4 separate regions of the Homo sapiens genome follow, and regions 2, 3 and 4 are each reported to be linked to region 1. The links are microRNA targets in miRTarBase. Many come from high-throughput screens and were not tested one by one. Region 1 holds a microRNA gene; each other region holds the end of a gene's coding sequence.
What was found. The annotated mature microRNA hsa-miR-3674 reads AUUGUAGAACCUAAGAUUGGCC and lies in region 1 at 2,231-2,252, shown strand. An mRNA with a match to its seed (bases 2 to 7 or 8) in the 3' UTR can be bound and repressed. Matches are read on the target gene's strand: a 7mer-m8 pairs with bases 2 to 8, a 7mer-A1 pairs with bases 2 to 7 and ends in A, and an 8mer does both.

Region 2: the mRNA of KLHL24 is a reported target of hsa-miR-3674. Seed matches in the 3' UTR shown: 8mer at 2,883-2,890 and 7mer-A1 at 3,873-3,879.
Region 3: miRTarBase lists C2orf69 as a target of hsa-miR-3674. Seed matches in the 3' UTR shown: 7mer-A1 at 1,004-1,010.
Region 4: miRTarBase lists SINHCAF as a target of hsa-miR-3674. Seed matches in the 3' UTR shown: 7mer-A1 at 814-820.

Annotation. Positions count from the first base shown.
Region 1 is chr8:1,798,903-1,803,480 of GRCh38, forward strand. It overlaps MIR3674 (microRNA 3674), which reads left to right and starts at 2,223; the gene lies at 2,223-2,290. RefSeq lists enhancers at 1,154-2,353, 2,187-2,848, 3,509-4,169.
Region 2 is chr3:183,678,424-183,682,711 of GRCh38, forward strand. KLHL24 (kelch like family member 24) reads left to right here. Exons shown (of 8, transcript NM_017644.3): 8 at 663-4,288. The coding sequence ends at 863. Among named protein-coding and RNA genes, the nearest start is that of YEATS2, 17 kb to the right of the region's middle.
Region 3 is chr2:199,924,923-199,929,210 of GRCh38, reverse strand. C2orf69 (chromosome 2 open reading frame 69) reads right to left here. Exons shown (of 2, transcript NM_153689.6): 2 at 938-4,149. The coding sequence ends at 3,325. TYW5 (tRNA-yW synthesizing protein 5) reads left to right here. Exons shown (of 8, transcript NM_001039693.3): 8 at 1-298. Among named protein-coding and RNA genes, the nearest start is that of C2orf69, 16 kb to the right of the region's middle.
Region 4 is chr12:31,279,174-31,283,461 of GRCh38, reverse strand. SINHCAF (SIN3-HDAC complex associated factor) reads left to right here. Exons shown (of 6, transcript NM_001135812.2): 6 at 591-2,878. The coding sequence ends at 750. Among named protein-coding and RNA genes, the nearest start is that of FLJ13224, 43 kb to the left of the region's middle. RefSeq lists a silencer at 4,213-4,288.

The DNA.
Region 1 (4,578 bases):
GGCCGATTCCTCCTGGGCCCTCCGAGCTGGGCTGGGGCTGCCACCTGCCCTCCTGGGTGTGGAGCAGGACCTGGTGATCCTGTGCCTCCTGCTTTCAGCCTCGCCTGATGTCCCCTTTCAGAGATGCCTGAAAGGCTCTCCCTGTAGCTCCGGTAGCCTCCTCTGGTTGGCCTCACCGGTGCCCATTCGTCCATCATCTGTCCATCTGCCTCCAGCCCTCAGACTTTGCCATGGCCCTCTGCCTTTCACTGTCTTGGCACTGGACCATTGTATTCCTCCTCCTGCTCCTCCTTCTTCTTCTCCTCCTCCTCCTCCTTCTTCTTCTCCTCCTCCTCCTTCTTCTCCTCCTCCTCCCCCTCCCCCCTCCCCCTCCCCCTCCCCGTCCCCCTCCTCCTCCTCCCCCTCCTTCTCCTCCCCCTCCTCCTCCTCCTCCTCCAATTCTTGTTCTTCTTCTTCTTCTTCTTCCTCTTCCTCTTCCTCTTCCTCTTCCTCTTCTTCTTCTTCTTCTTCTTCTTCTTCTTTTTCTTCTAAATGGAGACAGGGTCTCACCATGTTGCCCAGGCTGGCCTTGAATTCCTGGCCTTGAACAATCCTTTTGTCTCGGCCTCCCAAAGAGCTGGGATTACAGGTGTGAGCCACTACACCCGGCCATGCCTTCTATCTTCTTTCTCTACTTTCAACACTTAAATATTTTTAGCCAGGTTTCAGCAGGAAATGGATGGACATGAGGGCTCTGTCTGCCTGTTGGACCAGAAGCCCTTGCATCTGATCTAAACAAACCCCTTCTTGCCTTTGTTAGGGTTTCTGCTTGGTTTTATTCACAAAATTGACGTCTCAACTCTAATATTTATGTTCTTGTCACAGACAACTGTGATAGACTAATCAGTTACCTAATTGTCCTAAACCCAATCTTTTAATAAAATCTGGTTTCTTAGGACCTGGAGCGACAGGTTTGCGAGAAAGCTCCTCCCTGGATGAGGCCAAGAGCGTGGGAGTGAGTTCCAGGCTCCCAGAAGTGGGAAGTATTTTGGAAGTATTTTGGATTTAGGCGGTAAAGAATTCCCTATAAAAATAGCTGAACAGATTGGCCTCATATCACTGTGGGACTTTCTTGGAACATGAGGTGAGGTTATGGGTTGGCTTGCAAATAAAACCAAACACATTTCCCAATGAGGGAATGGGGCTGTGGTTAGGATGGGATCCGTGGGGGTTCTGGGGTGCTGGCAGGGCTCTGCTTGTGATCTGGTTACATAGCTATTTGCTTTATAATCATTTAGTAAATGTGTGATTTGTGAATTCTTCTGCATATGTTTTATTTCACAATAAAATGTCAACTTTTTTTTAACAACTAAGCAAAGTTAAGAACAATGCAGTGTAATTTCCTCGGAAATACGCTTTGACAGTTATTTAATTGGGCAAGTGGAAAATTACTTTTTATGAAGATGGTTTCTGCATATCATGAAAATGCCGTGTGCTGAACCATGCAGTAAGTGAAAGCGTCTAGATAAGGGCAGCCATTTGTTCTTCCCGATAAGGCACTCTCTACTGTTTTCTCTGGAATCAAACTGGCACGCCTGATGACTGGTGTTTTTATAAATCAGTGAGTATTTACATGTCTCAAACAGGCAAGTTTAAAACCACAAAGTCAGGGGCATGTTAAAAATTTGACTTCGGGTCTTAACGATCCACTGATCTTTTCATTTCTTCATTTTGGGTCCGGCTGCTTTGCATGAGGATGTTTTTCTCCCGTCTCTTATTGCCTGGCTTACAGGAGAGTTGGGTGATAGGAACACAAGGAGCAGAGAACGCACTGGCCTCTGACAGCCGCTCTGTGCAGATTCAGTCCTTCAGCCACCCGCAGGAATTGCCGCCAGAGTAGGACATGTCTTCTACCCTCTTGGAAGTGATGAAACCACCTTTCAGAAATTACAGCAGTGAGAAAACTATGACGTTGAAAGATACCTGATCTAACCAACCCCCATCCTGCCTTTGACCTCCAAACTGTCTTTCATCACTCCTAGGCCTGGGCCAAACTAATTTTGGAAGATATTTATAGTTTAAACGATAATAGCCCTTCTCCCGAACTGAACTGCCTGTGTAAAGCTAATGAAAGGCCAGTAGGTTAGGAGGATGAGAGGAGCCTGGATTCTGCTAAAATATAGATGTAAACGACGACCAGCCATTACTCTGGAGGTCACAAGATTTGCAGCTTCTGCAGATAAACATCACTATTGTAGAACCTAAGATTGGCCGTTTGAGATGTCCTTTCAAGTTTTTGCATTTCTGATGTCCGACTGATCCTGTGGCCCCACTCAGAAGCGGACTCCCTGGCCTGCTAAACTACCCTTGAAATACAGTAGCCTCCAAATTTTCAGGGAAATTGATTTAAGTAATGGTCAGGCCTCTGAGCCCAAGCCAAGCCATCGCATCCCCTGTGACTTGCACGTATATGCCCAGATGGCCTGAAGTAACTGAAGAATCACAAAAGAAGTGAATATGCCCTGCCCCACCTTAACTGATGACATTCCACCACAAAAGAAGTGTAAATGGCTGGTCCTTGCCTTAAGTGATGACATTACTTTGTGAAAGTCCTTTTCCTGGCTCATCCTGGCTCAAAAAGCTCCCCCACTGAGCATCTTGCGACCCCCACTCCTGCCCGCCAGAGAACAAACCCCCTTTGTCTGTAATTTTCCTTTACCTACGCAAATCCTATAAAACGGTCCCACCCTTATCTCCCTTCGCTGACTCTCTTTTCGGACTCAGCCCGCCTGCACCCAGGTGAAATAAACAGCCATTTTGCTCACACAAAGCCTGTTTGGTGGTCTCTTCACACGGACGCGCATGAAAGGAATAACTCCATCTCCCACGTGGCGTGGCTGGCCTCGTGTCAGTTAAACTTTCTTTATTGCAACACCATGGTTTCAGTGAATTGGTTTTCTCTGTGCAGTGGGCAGGAGTTTTAATTTCTTAATTTTGTAGCCAGCCTTCAGGCGGTGACAGTGATTGGACAATCACTTTAGTAGCATGAGATACTGAGGCTACTGCACTCGGATGGAATGGGCAGGAAACATGACTTGAATGCACCATGGACTCTACACCAGCATCTGTCCCCTGCAAAAGGGGCTCTGGGAACTAGAACAGTCATTCCCACCTTCTGAGCGCATTAGATCACTGCAGGGAGCATTGGAACGTGCTTTCCTGGGCCGCTCTGGGCCCAGGCTCCCATGTGAGCATCCGTTTTAAACCAAAAATAAAATTCCGAAAACCAAAAGCCCCCCATCCAACTGAATGGACCCCTACTCTTGGCCAAGAGGATTCCAAACAAACCTGAAAAACAAGTCAGGCCGGACGGGAAGGGGAGGGTCTGATACGCCTCATTGTATCCTCTCCCTTTGGGGTCAGGAACAGCCGATGGCATTAACATTAACACAGAGACCTTCGGACTGACCAGACAGGCTCTGGAAGTGATAGGAACAAGGCCTAGGGTGCAGGAGGAGCCTCGAGGGCTCAGCTGGGCTAGCCTGGGTGGAGGGGCCACAAGAAACCCCTGAAATGACAGAGGTCAAGTTTCATGGCCAGAAAGACTGGAGTCAGAGTGAGGAAGGGGGATGCAGTGGCCAGCCTTTGCTGGGAGCTGCCTCTGTGGCCACACCCAAAACTCCTCCCCCTGCATCGGCCACTCCAGTCCTTACGGTGGAACCACAGGCTCTTGTGAAAGGAAGATAAATCTCGAGACCCCAAGTCACTAAGCCAAAGGGAAGAATCAAGCTGGGAACTGCATCAGGGAATCCCGCCTCCCATTTTACTTAAAACTGCAGATGCAGGCTGGGCATAGTTGTTCACACCTGTAAGACCAGCACTTTAGGAAACTGAGGCAGGAGGATTGCTTGAGTCCAGGAGTTTGAGACCATCCTGGGCCATGTAGCCAGGCCCTGTCTCTAAAAAATAAGAAAAAAATGCAGATTCACTAAGCCAGACTAAGGCAAGAGTGACTGTTCCTCTACCCCCCTTTCACATGTAAATTGTGTATTTGGTGAAAGAAGGGCTAATCCCAGACTCAAAAGAATGCAACTGTTTGTCTCTTATCTGCCTGTGACCTGGAAGCCCCCACTTTGAGTTGTCCCATCTTTCCAGACCAAACCAATGTGCATCTTACACCTACTGATTGATGTCTCACGTCTCCCTAAAATGTATAAAACCAAGCTGTGCCCCGACCACCCTGGGCACATGTGGTCAGGACCTCCTGAGGCTGTGTCACGGGCTCATCCTTAACCTTGGCAAGTAATATGGTTAGCCTTGTGTCCCCACCCAAATCTCATCTTGAATTGCAGTCCCCAGGGACACAGCTGGCCGGAGGTGACTGGATCATGGGGGCGGTTCTCCCCATGCTGTTCTCGCGATAGTGAATAACTCTCACGAGATCTGATTTTTTTTTTTTTTTTTTTGCGACAGAGTTTTGTTGCCAAGGCTGGAGTGCAGTGGCGTGATCTTGGCTCACTGCAACCTCCACCTCCCGGGTTCAAGCGATTCTCCTGCCTCAGCCTCCCGAGTAGCTGGGATTACAGGTGCCTGCCACCA
Region 2 (4,288 bases), not on the chromosome of region 1:
ATGCTTTTGCTTAACTACCATTAAGTTAAAACCCTTTTATCAGTCCACATCCTACCTCCCACATCTTGGCCCCAATTACTAACATATAATCTTTTTTTTTTTTAACTTTTATTTTAAGTTCAGGGGCACAAGTGCAGGTTTGTTACATAGGTACACTGTGTCATGGGGGTTTGTTGTACAGATTGTTTCATCATTCAGTTCTTAAGCCCTAGTACCCATTAATTTTCCTGATCCTCTTCCTCCCCCAACTCTGCACCTTCTGAAAGGCCCGTGTGTGTGTTGTTCCCCTCTATGTGTCCCTGTGTTGTCATCATTTGGCTCCCACTTATAAGTGAGAACATGCAGTATTTGGTTTTCTGTTCCTGTGTAAGTTTGCTAAGGGTAATGGCCTCCAGCTCCATCCACGTCCCTACAAAGGACATGATCTCGTTATTTCTTGTGGCTGCTACTGACATAGCATCTATCTTGAAATTCATTTCATTCATGCAAAGTTGTCCAGCGCTTACACAGAACACAGAGAGCAGAGTTGGGCCAAAGGACCTTAGCTTTTATCATGTCTCCCTTTTTTTTGACTGTGCTAAAGCATTATTTTGCTTTTCTGTTTGTTACCAAATCCTTTATCTTCAATGGTTAATTTTTTGTTTATATATTTGGTTAAACAGGAAAACTGTGGTATGTCTGTGTGTAATGGTAAAATATATATCCTGGGCGGAAGACGGGAAAATGGAGAAGCCACAGACACTATTCTCTGTTATGATCCTGCAACAAGTATCATCACAGGGGTAGCTGCAATGCCCAGGCCAGTGTCCTATCATGGCTGTGTGACTATTCATAGATACAATGAGAAATGCTTTAAACTCTGAAGACAGGATACCTCACCGAAGAAGCCACACTGATCCAAGATGGGAGGTTTTAAAAACTCTACAGTGGGAACTTCACATATCTCCTTTGTGCCATATGCAAAAAATAGTAAAAATAATAATTTGGTGCCTTTCTCCTCAAAATATCAATCTTTCAAACTATAATAAAGCCTTTCCTATAATTGAAAAAAAAAACTTTTTTGTTAAAGGTAATGGTGGTTGTTACTTGGCCTTTGAAGAGTGTACCTTTGTAAGTATTTGTAAGAAGTCTATGTGAATTAGGAAATGTCTGTCTGCATACCTTTTAGGAGCGTGTGAATGGTGTCTTCACTTATTATGTATGTTTATCTGTATGTATATTCCTTATTTTGTCATATATGTAGAGAAAATTGCATGACTTGAGGCATCATTTAGGTTGAAGAAGTTAATGCTTAGGATGCATTCTAGGAGAAAAAATCAGTTTTAAAAACCTTTGTTGTTAACAAAGTATATCCAGATTGGTTAATTTTATTGAAGGGTTTTTTTCTGTAATTGATAAAAATGTAATGACAACAATTCAGGCATCATAAAATACTGAACTATTGTGACTTTATTCTTAGAATTGCTGTCTTACATTAAACATGTTTTTAGGGGGAAGTTAGGTAGGAGATAGAAAAATAAGTGCCCCTACAAGGGGGATTAAAATTACAAGTTAATTCCTAAGAGAAAAATGGAATGGCCTTTGAAGGAAAAATGACCCACTATGGCTCTCAAAGTTTTTATGCATCATCTCTTCAATCCTCTAAGAAAGCCTCTTTTCTTAACTTGATAAAGCAGTGGAAACCCATTTTGCAATATTGTTTTGTGAAAAACAGGGACAGACAGCCAGGTACAGAGACTCACACCTGTACTCCCAACTACTCAGCAGGCTGGGGCAGGAGGATTGCTTGAGCCCAGGAGTCTGAGGCTACAGTGAGCTATGAACGCACACGGCACCCTAGCCTGGGCAACAGGTTGCGACACTGTCTCAAGAGAAAAGAAAAAGAAAAATAGGGATAGGTTTTCCTTCCTAGCCCAGTAGAGTTTGACCTCATTAGTATGGTGCTTTGGGTGAGGACCTCTTCCTTGATTATCCCACTTTCTAGTGAACAGCTAAAATTCCTGAGAGTCTCTACTGTTAAGGTACCTTTAATAGGATAAAGCAGGGACCACCTATCTCAGTGGGTCCATTTTTCTTTTAAAATTAGTTATCTGAAAAAACTTAGCAGTAGTTCCCATCTTTAAGGTAAGTCTTTCATTTGGTCCCCATTGTGTAAAATACTAATCAACATTTTCAAGCTTCTGTACAACAGACTGCTTTTGTCTAGATTTCTCAACTCCACTTTATAAAGCTTATCAGTTTTCAGAGAGGAATGTGAATTTTTTTTCTAATGCAAATAAATGGATATGGCAGGAACTACAGCATAAGTGATTATTGTGATTCTGGGTGGACGGATATAATTTACAACATTTAGGGATGTTCTAGGTAGCCTGCTGTAGTTTGACTTCCAGTCACTGTTGTCTTTCACATTATAATTTGTATATTTCTTGTGATAGAAGGGATGATGCAAATATGTAATTAAAGTGTCACCAGATTTCTGTTAAAACCAAGGTTGAAATAAAAAGCCTAACATTGGTAAGCTACATTGTTTTCTCATTTTAGAATGATTCAGAGATTTCAGATAGACATTTTTTAAACTTTAATGCTTAGCTAGAATCTACATTCTGAGGAAAACTCTAAAAAACTTAAAAATTTTTAGGGAATTTTTATTTTTCAAATCATAATTTTAAAATGATAGATACCATTTTGTGATAACAACAATTCAGAAAACAATTTTCTATCCTCTTAGTTGAAAGAATGTAGGTACAGTTTGGATACTTGTACTTTAATTTTAGAGTAAACATCTGCATTATACTCTTATAGATAATAGAATTATTTAGTTAAGAAATTCTTTACAGTAAATGAGATAATGTGTGAAAAAGTATTTTGTAAATGCTGAGGATTCTACAAATGATAGTTGTTATTTTCATGTGTATTTGTAAGATCATGTCCATTTCATGAATATAGGACTTCACATAAAAAAAGACTTTCTCAAGACAACTTTATATTCTAGTATTTTTCTGTTGTAAAAAGTATTAACTATTTACTTTTATTTTGTTATACATTTATTTTAATATCCATGTGTTTATTATAGTAAATTTGAAATGAAATCCTGAAAAACAGAATTTTTTTAAACACAGACCTCACACCAATATTAATTTTTTCTCTACATAATTTAAAACTACATAAATTAAGTACTTAAAATTTATATTGAAGGCCACCAAGAACTTAGGTTGAATCTTAGAAAATTTAAATAACTATTTTTAAAGTTACCCAACTTAATATTTTAATTTTTTAATATTTATCTTCCTTTACTAATTCTTGATAAATAATAGCATTAGACTTGATAAAATAAAAAAGAATTTTAGAGTAGAATTAATATATCAAAAGGGGTATATCAACCAAATTGGTGTCAGATTGTATTCATTCTCTCATCACATAAAGATTTTTCTTTTGATAGGTGATGCTCATATGAACCTTTGGTTTAGAATCTATATATGTACATGTGTATGTATGTAGATAGTATGGTTGTATACACACATATATACCAAACACCATGAATTTTAGCAGTCTGTGATGATCAGCAAAAAAGCACATAAAGTAAAAATTAGTTGACCATGCTAAATTCAATTCTGGAATTTTTTTTTATTTGGGCATTTCTAGAACTTTTTACATTTGAAAGTACATGATGAGTATTAGTAACGATGACTTATGTATAATCAGAATCTTTATGACAATTTAGTTTTACAAGGTCAGAAGAGATGAGTTTGCTAAACCCAGCTGTGATACCTCAGTTGGAAAGGGAATTCAAAGGTATGCTTTGTAGAACAGAAAAGTATAGTTTTTTTTTCATGAACTTTAATCATTTTCTGTTTTTCCTCTATGTGAGTCAGCTACAAAAGTGGTCTAATTTTTACAACAGTAGAACTTCCTCCTTTTCTACTGTAATCTTCCCACTGACTTTACTGCACAGGTATGAAATACTAGTGTATTGGATCTTCAGTAACCTTTTTATTTCCTAGATGATTGAAATATAGGTATTTACTCCATTTAAACCAGGTGATAAGATGATGTAAATACTCAGGGAGGGTATTAACTTGTTACTTTTGCTCGTTTGGGGTGTAAAGTGCCATGACTGAATAATCTTCAATTCATGATTCTAGAGTAAGTTTAATTTGGAAAAAGGGGCTTCACACATGGTGGTGGTTGAACATTGATTCTTTTATACTTAAAAAGATGAAAATGTTTTGTGGACTGATACATTTTATCTTACTGAATATGAATTGTTTATGTATCTCTACTGTCAAAT
Region 3 (4,288 bases), not on the chromosome of region 1:
TCCCTTCCCCCTCCCCCAACCCCACGATGTAGTCTCTTTCTAAGTTCCATTAAACAGAATACTAAAATGACCTTTTTTGGTGACTCTTGCCTGTCTCTACCACTAACTGGCTTAAAAGCTGCTGGGTCTCTTCCTTTGTAAAGAGCAACATGAGTTTACAGATGAGGTCTGTCTATATCTCCTCTTATGTTTTTCTCTTAAGAACTTCAAGTGAAATAAAACAAAATAGCTCTTTTATGAATACTACCTTTTGTATTTTACCTCATAAGATTTAATGTATTAAACATTTCTATACCAACATGCTGGGACTTTGTATTGTCTGTCCTATATCCTCATTGCCTAGACCCTCCTTGACCTTGGTGGTTACTTAGATAGTACATGAATGAAATGAAAAATAGATTACACCATACCCTAACCAAGTCTTGTAAGAAGCTAAAGGACTACAAATCCCTGAGATGATTAGCACAGAAAAGAGAAAAGGATGAACTTGTTAGAGGTTTTGTTCTCTATGAAATCCAATAAAAGAAGTGGATATAGTGCAAATTTTTATGGAGCAATTTTAAAGGGAGAAGGTATGTATTTGTACAAAAAAGGTTCAAAGTTGCTCATTTGAAAAGACATGGAAGATAATGAAAAGATGCACAGTAAGTCCTCACTTAATGTGCATAGGTTCTTAGAATCTGTGACTTTAAACAAAAGGACAAACAGCAGGTCCTCAACGTTTTGTTCGTTGTCATCTAGTTAAAACAATGATGAGAAAAAAATTGGTTTTGTTATATCAGTTTGCTTCAAGTCTCAGTTTCCAAGAACCTACTGATATGTTAAGTGAGGACTTACTGTATACAAACCCAACTTAGCAGGGTGGAGAAATGGCTTCCTTTATAAATAATCTGAAGTTTTAACAATGCTAATAAATATAAAGCACATCCAAACAAACTTCTGTGGATGATCAATTTTAATACAATTATACATTCATGCTGTGGTGGTAACAACTTTCACATTATTTGTAGGACTACTTTTCTCAACTCATGACAAAGGCACAATCCAAAAGTGTAAATTAACATTACAATAAGTTTTAAACAAATGTGGACAAAGGACCAATCTGAAGTATTAAACAGAAAACATCTGAATATGGATCAACTTGAATATATTTTCATTCCAGAAAATATTTTGTCTTTTCAACACTGTCTCATTTTGCTATGATGGCAGTTTTGTGTACCTGGTGACTTACTCTTAATACCCATTCAACATGTAACAATTATAATTAAGCATTCACATACTGGATAGACAACCTAGATTTTTAAATATGTCTGATTTTTTAAAATTATTTTTAAATGAATTATTCTGCTAAATGTCTTACTTTTCCATTTCAGTTAATCATGTGAAAATAAATGCTTTTTCTTCCCCTTATAGAATTCAGTAACTCAGCTATTTTCCTTTAGATACATGTGAATTTAGCCAAGGATTATTAAACAAATAGAAAAAAAGCCATCCAATCATAGTGCTTAAAGGCAATGTAATATGTAAAATGTTAAAATCAGGCTGATTTATTTCCTTGATGGGAATTTTTGGTCTCAAAAGAAACGAGGTATTTAAAGAAACTGAAGCAACATAATACTACTTTGTCTTTAAAAAAAAAAAAAAAGCCATTTAGAGATGCTGTTCTGCAGTTTATAAAATTAAGTGTTAAAACACCAAAAAGAAATGTTATTTTTAAACATTTGTTAAGAATCCTTTCTCATGAATCTCTGAATATTTGGAATGTATTTATGGAGTCATTAAAATATAATTCTGGGAAGAAACCAAGAAATTAACATTTTTATTCTATATGGCTTTATAAATCTAGGTCTTCTGGGTCATTAAGGTATTAAGCTTCAGTGTCTTTTTTTTTTTTTTTTTTTTAGTCCTAAAGCAGCATGTTACTTCCCTGCTATTTCATTACCTGCAAAAGCTAATTATTAATAAACAACAAACTGCTCACCTTTTATTGTAATCACCCAATTACAATGTCAATGTTGGTTGACATTTATTAGATCTGGATTTCTCAAAGTGTATTTATCTAGGTCAAGAAAAACGGGCAGAAGGAAACTTCACCCAAATTATGTAGCAGTGTTAAGCAAATTCAGTTTTTGAGCCAAAATTAAATCATTTGTGTCTTCAAACTTTCCCTTGTAACTTTTCTTATAGCAATGTAATTTTGCATTTTGGCCAAAGAGAGCTATTTTCTTTTGGCAGACAAAATCATGCTTCTGGAGAAACATTGACTTAGATCTATGGAATCTGTTTCCTTTTTAATAGAGCTCTAACAAATAGAGCATTATATATTTATTTTATCCAAGTTGATCCTTTCAAAAAGACTGATATAATGAAAAATTTGAAATTTGCTCTGTAGTACATTTTTATCCAATATACATAAATATGCTCAATTTAAAGCAATTTTCCAAAACAACTGGTTTTTGGACAAGATTCAAGAAACCCCAGAATGTCTTACCCAAAATAATGATAAACTGACAATTAAAAATTAAACAATAGTGCTTAAGTGTAATTTTGTTTTGTTTTGTTTTAGAGATGAAGTCCCACTATGTTGCCCAGGTTGGAGTGCAGTAGCTAGTCACAAACACAATTATGGTGAACCACACAGCCTGGGCTCAAGCAATCCTCCTGCCTTAGCCTCCTGAGTAGCTGGAACTAAAGGCACGTGCCACCACACCTGGCTATGTTTTTAAAAACCACCTTTACACTATTGTACACTTGTGGACATTTGGAAACAAATATATGTTGACTCTCATGAGAAAAGTACTTGGTGACACATGAAAGAATGAGTCAAGGAGTTTACAAAAACACAAAAGGCAGGGTGCAGTTATTCCAAAATGATAGAAAACAGCATCGTACCTTTGCTTTTGTTTGAAGAGAAATGAAAATATTTCCACTCAAAATAGCTAATTACTGTTAAAATGTCACCAAATTAGTTTAAAACATTACTCAGAAAATCAGTTATTTCCAACAGTAACAATTTTAGTTACCTTTTATAAGAACAATGTTGTAACTTTCATTTTAAGGGTCTTATATCTCCTCAGCATTATTACAAACCACCTTGTTAGATTTCAAATTAACTAATTCTAACTCAATCCAAATTAATAACTGCTCACATTCACAAGCAAAAAATACTATTGCACATTACACTCACATTTTAGGAATGTGTGCTTCCCCCCATACCCCAAAACTGACAATGCAGCTATGAATTACATCCCATTATCTGAATTTATAACACTCAAAAGTGCTTATGTTCTTCCACTGAACAAGTTCATTAATATACCTGTAATCTCAAAATACTTCATGAACCCTGAAGTGATTCTCTATGGAAGGAGCTTCCTTTGTAAAATGAATTTGGCTAGTCACCTGCATACCAAGATCCCCAAGTATCTGAACAAATTTCTTGTGCTCCTTTCCAATCCAAGATCTCATTGGATCACGTACTTGGTAAGGTGTTACATGAGTGTGAACGATAATTCCTGTTTGTGCAAATTCTTTCAAGACTTCTGGATAAGTAACCCAAGTATTGCTTCCTCCAGAATGACCACCATCCAGCCAATACATTGTTCTTATGCTTTTGATAAAAGCATCTATGTTCTTGTCTTTCTTGGCTTCTTTCAATTCAAAAAGCAACTGATTCAAAACAACACAACCTTTACTGAATCCAATCAAAGTAAAAGATGCGTCATTTAGTGATGGTGGATAAAAACTCATGGCAGACTCATCAGATTTTTCACAGGTCCTCACTTTTTCTCCCTGGCAACCATTCGTAGTATGAGAAGGACTGGATCTACAGTTAGATGCTATGGAGTCCTTATTCCAAACATTCAAACTTTTCTTTGATAAACTATTCTGACTTAAATTAAAAGCATTAACTAATAACATATAAAGGTGCTTAAAAGCTCCAAAGTCAGTATTGTGTTCTGGGGCACCAAACATGTTACTTTTCACAAAATTGTCATAGCAGCTGAATTTGTGCAAATGCATTCGGGAACATTTTATCACCCAAATATAACTATTGGGGAACCGGTGGGCTAAAATGGTAGCAACATTTTCTAGACTCCAGTTTTCCCATTGATAATTCTCAGGATGACGAGTCATAATTTCATGGTAATTCTGAAAGGTAAGAAAGATGAAATAAGTATTAAATACATATTTACATAAAATGATTTCCACAAAATAAGTTTCCATTTTTATTGTGGAGAAGGGATGTTACAATGACCTATGGTTAATGTACACTAGAAATGAAAACTAT
Region 4 (4,288 bases), not on the chromosome of region 1:
CTGGCTAATTTTTGCATTTTTAGTAGAGATGGGGTTTCGCCATGTTGGCCAGGCTGATCTCGAACTCCTGACCTCAAGTTATCTGCCCACCTCAGCCTCCCAAACTGCTGGGATTACAGGTGTAAGCCACCACACCCGGCCCACACATGTATTTTTATCTACTCAGTATTTAATTAAAAATTACCACTCAAGCACTTAGGAGTTGATAAAGAAAAAAAATTAAATATATATAAAAAATTGCTAGCTGCATCAGCCTGTTTATGGTGGCTGATTTTTTTTTCAAGAGTTGGTGATTTTGGAGGAAATAGTTAACAACATCAGGGGCAGCCTTTGAAACTGACTGCTGTCTTTCAAAATGCCGTCTTCCTCAATATTTGAGAAGATTCCAGTGTGGCCTTTAAGGCAACTGGGTAATTCCCCTTCTCTAGCTAATTGGGGTTACTCTAGGAGCCCTTTCACTTGGAATGTGCAAGATTGTAGAAGCACAACTCTTTGGTTATATTGGACTAGTTATAATAGTGAGTAGATTTCTTTTGTATTCCTATTTTTCTTCCTTATTAATGTATCTTGTTCTCCATTTTTTCTTTTAGACAGAAGATATGTTGTGGGATCATCTATAAAGGCCGTTTTGGGGAAGTCCTCATTGACACACATCTCTTCAAGCCTTGCTGCAGCAATAAGAAAGCAGCTGCTGAGAAGCCAGAGGAGCAGGGGCCAGAGCCTCTGCCCATCTCCACTCAGGAGTGGTGACTGAGGTTTTTATGTAGAAGGGGAACAAAAAAAAAAATATCTGAATTTTGAAAAACCACAAAGCTACAAACTGACCCTCTTTTTTTTTTGAGACGGAGTTTTGCTCTTGTTACCCAGGCTGGAGTGCAGTGGCGTGATCTTGGCTCACTGCAACTTCCGTCTCCCGGGTTCAAGTGATTCTCCTGCCTCAGCCTCCCAAGTAGCTGGGTTTATAGGTGCCCGCCACCAGACCCGGCTAATTTTTTAGTTTTAGTAGAGACGGGGTTTCACCACGTTGGCCAGGCTGGTCTTAAATGACCCTCTTATTTTTAACTTGGATACCTGCTATTCTGCCAAAAGACAATTTCTAGAGTAGTTTTGAATGGGTTGATTTCCCCCACTCCCACAAACTCTGAAGCCAGTGTCTAGCTTACTAAAAAAAGAGTTGTATATAATATTTAAGATGCTGAGTATTTCATAGGAAAGCTGAATGCTGCTGTAAAGTGCTCTTTAAGTCTTTTTTTTTTTTAATCCCCTTCTAATGAATGAAACTAGGGGAATTTCAGGGGACAGAGATGGGATTTGTTGTATGATAAACTGTATGTAGTTTTTAGTCTTTCTGTTTTGAGAAGCAGTGGTTGGGGCATTTTTAAGATGGCTGGCTACTCTTGTTTTCCCTCATGATAATAAATTTGTCATAACTCAGTAACATGAACTTGCCCCTAGAGGTAGTTGTTAATAATTTTGAAATATTAAGGTCTTGCCAAGCTTCTGATGATTCACACCTGTACTACTGATTATTAAGCAGGACAGACTGAGCTTTCTGTTGCAAATACCTTGGAGGAGAAAGTAATTTCTAAATATACAGAGAGGTAACTTGACTATATATGTTGCATCCTGTGCCTCCCTTCATATTAATATTTGATAAAGATTTTAATTTATGTAAAACTTCTAAAGCAGAATCAAAGCTCCTCTTGGGGAAATGGCAAGTCTTTAGGATAGGCAAGACCCTGTATGAATAGTACCAAAGCATTACCGCATGGTAGAGAACACACTCGATTAAAAATGTTAAGCTATCTGAAAAATAAAATGTGCAAGTCTTCAGGATGGCACAAAACAAAGGTTAATGCTTCTTGGGGCACATTTCTTAGAGGGCTTGCTGAGTGTGTAAATATAATCGACTTTTGTTTGTGTTACATGACTTCTGTGACTTCATTGAAAATCTGCACAATTCAGTTTCAGCTCTGGATTACTTCAGTTGACCTTTGTGAAGGTTTTTATCTGTGTAGAATGGGTGTTTGACTTGTTTTAGCCTATTAAATTTTTATTTTCTTTCACTCTGTATTAAAAGTAAAACTTACTAAAAGAAAAGAGGTTTGTGTTCACATTAAATGGTTTTGGTTTGGCTTCTTTTAGTCAGGCTTTCTGAACATTGAGATATCCTGAACTTAGAGCTCTTCAATCCTAAGATTTTCATGAAAAGCCTCTCACTTGAACCCAAACCAGAGTACTCTTACTGCCTCTTTTCTAAATGTTCAGGAAAAGCATTGCCAGTTCAGTCTTTTCAAAATGAGGGAGAAACATTTGCCTGCCTTGTAATAACAAGACTCAGTGCTTATTTTTTAAACTGCATTTTAAAAATTGGATAGTATAATAACAATAAGGAGTAAGCCACCTTTTATAGGCACCCTGTAGTTTTATAGTTCTTAATCTAAACATTTTATATTTCCTTCTTTTGGAAAAAACCTACATGCTACAAGCCACCATATGCACAGACTATACAGTGAGTTGAGTTGGCTCTCCCACAGTCTTTGAGGTGAATTACAAAAGTCCAGCCATTATCATCCTCCTGAGTTATTTGAAATGATTTTTTTTGTACATTTTGGCTGCAGTATTGGTGGTAGAATATACTATAATATGGATCATCTCTACTTCTGTATTTATTTATTTATTACTAGACCTCAACCACAGTCTTCTTTTTCCCCTTCCACCTCTCTTTGCCTGTAGGATGTACTGTATGTAGTCATGCACTTTGTATTAATATATTAGAAATCTACAGATCTGTTTTGTACTTTTTATACTGTTGGATACTTATAATCAAAACTTTTACTAGGGTATTGAATAAATCTAGTCTTACTAGAAAATAAAAGGAGCTGTTTTGTGGCTTTGTTTGACAGGTCTTCAGTAAGAATAATGTTTTTGGCTTTCACATATACTCAGTTTAAGTGCTTAGTATTAATAACAAGCCATGAAGGGAATAAATTCCTCTTCACTGAGACATAGACTTTGGAATAAAAGACATTTTAACTGATGTGCACAATTATTAATCTAGTGGATAAGATGGATTTAAAAGGAAGAACAAAATGTTCCCAGTACTTTTTACTGTCTGTGGTTTTATTACTATCTATGGGCATAGTGGGAAGCATCATTGAGACTTTAGGGAAACTATAAAAGTTGGAAGGGTGGTGGCATCAGGGGTTGGATGCTGGTTCTCAAGTTCCTAGCTCTGCCCCTTGTTAGTCATTTGAGTTAAATAATTAATGGGAATATCTACTTCACAGGATTATGAGGAATCCTAAGAGGTGTAATCCATATCAAACTTTTAGAAACCAGTTGTTTTATTACCTGGGAAAGGTAATAAAGGGCCAGACTTTTTATACTACTGTTAGTATTTAAATTTGGGATAGTCTGGATGCCACCTAATACAGTTACTATGAAATTAACAAGGTAACTAAGGAAGTTGATAGTACCAGTATTATCTATTGCTATGTCCTAAATTACCATAGATTTAGTGGCTTAAAACAAATGCGTCTCAGTTTCTGTCTGAGCATGGTTTAGATAGGTCCTTTAGAAAGCTCATGGTCTCATCTGCATTCTCACCTGGTGATTTGGGAAGAACTCATTTCAGCCTCACTCGGCTGGCAGAATTCAGTTCTTGCCACTGCAGGACTGAGTGTCCAGACCTCTCACTGGTTGTCAGCTGGAGGCCCCCGCTTAGTTCCTTGCCAGCTGGGTGCTCCCTGCATGGCCTGGCTGCTGACTGGACCACTGACATGATTACTGTCACTACCAGCAAGTGTCGAGAGCCAAGCTGCCAGCAAGAGGGGTCTTTTCAGGTCCTGCCCATATCCAAGGGGAGAGGCTCATACGAAGGATTGGATACCAAGAGGTGCGGGTGGGGCTAATGGGAAGGCACCTAGAGTTTGTCACAGCTTTTTTTTTTTTTAACTGAATCTCTTTAAATTGGTCGTCTCGCCCTACAATGCAAATGCTTTGTGTAGCAAGTAAAAAGAAAAATGGCTCTCACAATATGAAAAACCCTGGCTGGGCACTGTGGCTTATATAAACCTGTAATCCCAGCACTTTGGGAGGCCCAGGCGGGTGGATCCCTTGAGGTCAGGAGTTCAAGTCCAACCAGGCCAACATGGTGAAACACCGTCTCTACTAAAAATAAAAAAATTAGCCAGGCATGGTGGCATGCGCCTGTGGTCCCAGCCACTCGAGAGATTGAGGCAGGAGAATTGCTTGAACCTGGGAGGTAGAGGTTGCAGTGAGCTGA